2 separate regions of the Homo sapiens genome follow, and region 1 is linked to region 2. Evidence: fine-mapped expression QTL. A gene starts in region 2. The other region holds a variant in brackets. All regions are shown on one strand. Distances are between the middles of the regions.

What was found. PIP is the estimated chance that this variant, and not a neighbour inherited with it, causes the effect.
Region 1: its variant is the best candidate, but not a certain one, in a credible set for the expression of ADRA2A in nucleus accumbens (GTEx, PIP 0.64).

The regions. Positions count from the first base shown.
Region 1 is chr10:111,162,423-111,165,331 of GRCh38, reverse strand. No RefSeq gene overlaps it. Among named protein-coding and RNA genes, the nearest start is that of HEAT2, 50 kb to the right of the region's middle. The variant A/G (reference allele first, on the strand shown) is at 1,634.
Region 2 is chr10:111,075,608-111,078,516 of GRCh38, reverse strand. ADRA2A (adrenoceptor alpha 2A) reads right to left here and starts at 1,488. Exons shown (of 1, transcript NM_000681.4): 1 at 1-1,488. The coding sequence starts at 520. RefSeq lists a silencer at 1,476-1,525.

The DNA.
Region 1 (2,909 bases), 87 kb before region 2:
CAATTCTCCTGCCTCAGCCTTCCAAGTAGCTGGGACCACAAGCATGTGCCACCATGCCCAGCTAAATTTTTTGTATTTTTAGAAGAGATGGGGTTTCACTGTGTTAGCCAGGATGGTTCTCGATCTCCTGACCTCATGATCCACCCACCTTGGCCTCCCAAAGTGCTGGGATTACAGGTGTGAGCCACCATGCCTGGCCAGAAGAGACAATTTTTTAATAGAAAAATTCCAGCTTTTTTAAAAGTGGAAGGAATAAGAGAAGTAGAAAATCACTATCAGAGTACCATAGCAATAGCTAGCTGCTGCAGGCAATCTCCACTGATGTATACTAAGATTAGTGGGTGAACTTTGAGAAACAGGATATTTGCAGAGCTTAAAGTATCTTCCACCAATATTTATTGATTACAGTGAAAGTTTTAAAATGTTCACAAAATTTTTGCTACTCCTCTCTCCCGGGAGCAGAGCTTACTTTCCCTCACTTGAGTGAGGGCTAGACTTAGCAGCTGTCTTCTGATGAACAGAATATAGAAAGGGAAAAACCATCACTTTCTAAGGGAGAAACCTGACAGACAGCATCTTAACTAAGTGATCAAAGTTAATATCACCAGTACTATGTCATATTGATATCATATAGCCCTTGATATGAGGTAATGAGAAGGAATCATCATCTCTGAGGCACCCTTCCCCAGTCCATAACCTGTCTGATCATGAGAACATAACAGACAAAACCAAACTGAGGGACACTACAAAACACTGAACCAACAAAGTGACAAGGCCATGAAGAAAAAAGGAAATATCGAGAAACTATCACAGACTGGAGGAGACTAAGGACACATCACAACGAAATGTAGTGTAGTATCTTGGATTGGCTCCAGAATCAGAGGGGGAAAATGTTAGTGGAAACACTTGTGGGGATGCAAATAAAGCCTGCAGTTTAGTTAATATTTGTTGTACCAATGCTAGTTTTTTAGTTCACAGAAATGTACCACAGTTGTGTAAGATGTTAAGATTAGGGTAATCCAAGTGAAAAATATATGGGAACTCTGTACTATCTTCACAATTCTTCTTGTAACTCTAAAATTACTTCAGAAGAAAACTTCTGAAGCAAAAACAATGTTTCCAAAAAGAAAAAAAAATACATGGCTTCAATCAACAAAGTTTTCAAAGTTGAGACATTGAAAGATTAACAAAATGGATAAATTCCTAGGACAACTGATCAATACAATAATAAAATAAACAAATAGAAGATGTCTACACTGAAAACTACAACACATTATTGAAATAAATGAAAGAAGATGCAAATAATGGAGGAATAGAGCATGCTTATGAATTAGAAGACTCAATTCTGGAAAGATGTCAAATTCCAAATTGATCTACAGTTGTGTGTAAACTCACTCAAAATTCCAGCAGGTTTTCCTTTGGAAGGTGACAAGTGATTCTAAAATATATAGAGATGCATGTAAAGCAAAAAGTAGTCTTGAAGAATAGCAACAAAGAACTTACACTACCTGGTATCAAATTTTCAGTGAGGTATTGGATGAACACAAAATGACCAACAACACAGAAGTCTATCCAGAAACACAGAAAGATGGCAGTCATCTGGTCTACAACAAAAGCGGATACACAGCGCAGC[A/G]GGAAAAAGATGACCTTTTCAATAATGGATGCTGATTCGCTTAGATATCTATATGGGGAAAAAATTAGTCCTGACCTCTACTACATACCATACACAAACAAGAGTTTCAGATGAACTGTGGATCTAAGTGCTAAAGGCAACACCATAAAACTTTCAGAAGAAAACATGAGACTATTTTTAGTACATTAGGGTAGACAAAGATCTCTTAAACCACAAAATATACTAGCCATAAAGGAAAAAATTGATAAAGTTAAGAACTTCTGTACGTTAAGAGATATTATGAAGAGGATTTTTTTAAAAAGAACTTGCCCAAAAATATATAAAGAACTCCTATAACCAATAAGTAAAAGGCAGACAATCCAATAAGACAATAGGCAAAAGACTTGAACAGGTGCTTCACAAAAGAGGATATCCAAGTTAGTTAATAAGTAGATGAAAACGTGCTTGGCTTCATTAGTCATCAGGAAAATGCAAAATTGAAACACCGCAATCAGATACCACTATACCCCCACAAGAACGATTAAAATGAAAAAGGCAAACATTGGCAAGTGTTGGGGACAATGTGAAGCAGCTAGAGCTCTCATATGCCACCACTGGTGGGAATGTATATTAGTACAAGCACATTGAAAACTGTTTAGCAATTGCTACTAAAATTGAGCATATGCATTCCCTAGTATCCAGAAATTTCATTCCTGGCAATATAACCAGCAGATACGTGTATCCATGTTAACCTACAGACATGTACAAAAACGTTTATAGCAGTATTACTCATAATGTCCTAAAATTCAAATAACCAAACATCTAGTAATAGTAGGATAAGTATTCATAAAAATACTACAGAATTAAAATGTTCAAACTACAAATAAATCCAACAACAGAGATGAATCTCAAAAACATAAACTTGAACCAAAGAAACCAGAGACACACAAAAGTATGAGTCTATATTTGTAGTTCAAAAACAGACAATCTGAACTATGGCATTAGAAGTTAGGATAGCAGATCTCTTATGGGGTGGTAGGGGACAAGTATTGACTGGAAGAAATCACAGGGGAAGCTTCTTGGTTGCTGGCAATATTCTATCTTCATCTGGGTGTTGAATAGAAAGGTGTGTTCTGTGTCTGACTGTTCATCAAGCGATACATTTATGACTCGTGCAGTTTTCAAAAAGGAAATTATGTACAATAAGATTGCTGGGGGGTGGGGAGAAAACCATATACATTGCTCTAAAAGATCCTCGGGAGCATTTTAAGGGAGGATGGTATTAGGAGAGAGATGG
Region 2 (2,909 bases):
CCCACACGGTGATGATGATGGCCTTGATGCGGCGCGGCGTGCGCTTCAGGTTGTACTCGATGGCCTGTGTGATGGACCAGTAGCGGTCCAGGCTGATGGCGCACAGGTGCACGATGGACGACGTGCAGAAGAGCACGTCGAGCGCCAGGTAGATCTCGCACCAAGCCTTGCCGAAGTACCAGTAGCCCATGACCTCGTTGGCCAGCGAGAAAGGGATGACGAGCGTGGCCACCAGGATGTCGGCCGAGGCCAGAGACACCAGGAAGAGGTTTTGGGGCGCCTTGAGCGCGCGGCTCGTGAACACGGCGATGATGACGAGCACGTTGCCGAACACGGTGAGCAGCATGAGCAGGCCGGCCAGGCACACCAGCGTCAGCGTCACCTGCAGGGAGTAAGGGGTGGCCCGGGCGCCGCCCCCCGGCGCCTCGGTCCCGTTCCAGCTCGCGTTGCCCGCGTCCGGCTGCAGGGAGCCCATGGGCGCAAAGCTGCCCTCGGCCAACGGCTGCTCCTGGCGGAACATGAACGCGGGCGCCCGCTGGCCTGGGCCTGCTGCCAGCTGCCTTCCGGCCCGGCGCCCGTGGGTCCTCCTCTTCCTCCGGCGCCCCGCTCGCCTGGCTGCGGCTCACATAGGGAGGGGGCCGCAGGGAGGCCGGGCCCGAACTGGAGGACCGCTAGCGGCCCATGGCCCGGGTCCCGCGAACTGCGCCTGGCTCGCGCTTCAGACGCTCTCGGTGGGCGCCTTCTTGCTCCGAGCTCCTAATACAGCCAAGTTTTATTTCTAAGCGGCGGGAGAGAGTAGGGAGAGCCGATGGGTAAAGAGAGATTTATTCTTCAAGAAGGGAGAACAAAAATCATCGGTGGCCTGATAACTTGGAAGGATGACAGGAAATTAAATATATATATACATATCAATATCTGTATCTTGAATCTTGAGCCTGAGCGAAAGCAAGAGGTCTTACCGTGTGCGGGGCCCGCCCCCACCCCGGGAGGCAGCCGAAGGGTGCTGATGCGAGCTCGGGGGTCCTATGTCTGTCGCCTTACATCCCCGAAGCGATTACCGACTCTCTGGCTTCCCCCAGACGCTGCGGTTCTGGCCCGGCCCGGCCCGGGGCTGGGGCGCGGACTCTGCCGCCTCTCGGAGCGCCGCGAGACTTCCAAAGTTGTGCGCCCTGCTGGGGCTGGGGCACACTGTGCGGAGCTCCGGGACGGCGGCGGCGGCGGGGTGAGGAGTGTGGGGGCCGCATGAAGGCACCCCCGTCCTCAGGCGGGCCGGGGCAGGTGAACGATCAGCTCTCCAGGAGCCGCGACGGAGGCAGGGGTTCTCCTGGGCGTCCGCCTGGTGGGCGCCGAGCGCTGCTGGATGGGCCGGGGTCCGACGACAGCGCGAGTTGGGGCAGGAGCGCAAGGCGGGGAAGAAGGCGCTGGAGTGGCCGGGCGGCGGCACGCCGGCTGCTGGGCTTCTGCACCGAGCTGGAGCTGCTGCTGCTCCGCTGCGCTCACGGTGGACTCGTTTTATAGCCCCAGGATCAAGCAAGCGTTGCTGAGCAGCCGGCGTCAGCCCCCACGTGGGAAGCCGACCCTCCCCCGCCCCTCGCACCACCCCTCCGCCAGTCTAGCGCCCGCGCCTAGCGCTGGACCTCGGGGAGCGTTGCCCTCAGGCGGGACGAGCCCTTTGGAGAGGCGGGTACCTTGAGCTAGAGACTTAAAGAGGGAGCCCGGGGGTGGGGGGTAGGGGAGGAGCGGCCCCTGCTGGGAGTTGGCCATGCAGCTCCGGGCCGACGGAGCAGAACGCAACGGGCACCCGTGAGTGCCCCCAAGAAGCTGGATCTTGGGAGAAAAGGGAAGAAAAAAATGGAAGGGAATCCCCGCCCAAATCGAGGGAAGTAACCTCCGGTGTGAGTTACGTCTGGAGCAGCCCAGCTCCGGGCCAGAGCCGACGCGGTCCGCAGGTGCTCCTGGAGGCTGGGGAGAAAGGGGTCCTGGAGAGGGAGGAAGGCGCGGCTTCGGATGGAACCCCTGGGGCGGAATGGACAGCACCCACGGGGAAGTGGTACAAGCCGGAGTTCAGACCTCCGCTTAGGGAAGAAGCGGCTACGTGTCCTCCCAGCCGCGATGCTGTCTGCGGGAAACGCAAGACCCGGGGTCTGGACCGCGCCCCCTTAGACCGAGGTGGGGAGGGGTCCAGGAGCCGAGCGCCAGGGCAAAGCGAGGACGCACTGACACCTGCTGGCCGCTCGTGGTCACGGCTGAGAAGCGACCCGCTGACGCCAGGCGCCTCCTCCCGTCTCTTAGGTCTTCTGCCAACAGAGCCTTCTCCTATCTCCGAACAAATTGGTTTCTAAGCTCAGGAAAGGAGAACCCAGAGTTTGAATTGCACCCTGCCGTGTTGCAGAAATCTTCCTAAAGCAGATACTCGTGTGTCTACCCCTGGCGGGAGTGGGGGTTTGTCTAATAAAGTCACATCAGGAAGGGCTCAGCAGGCACCGCCGGCCAGAACGGGCATCCCACTCTGGACCCGCACAGCCCACCCTTCCTGCAGATCCGAGAGAGGCCAGGATCCTGCCTCCTTGGTTGCACAGCTCTGGCTTGCTGGGAATCATTATGTTTTTGTTGAGGACCGAAAGCTAGACTCCACTCCCGCCCCGCATCCCACCCCCATTCAGATGTACACACAGCATCCTTCAATAAGGGGAAGAGGGAGTAGAATATTTTCCATGTTCTCTCTGATAAGAATAGCGGTGGGGGCGGGGGGGAGTGGGTGTGCGGCGAATGGCAAGTTTTTCCGTGCGTGCTAGCTGTCCTAGGATAGATTTTAACGGTCACTAGAGCACTAGCTTGCACCCTGCTAGCTGCACTTTTCAGATGAGAGCAAGCAGTTTAATGGTAAAACCCAAGAGGGTAGGAAATTT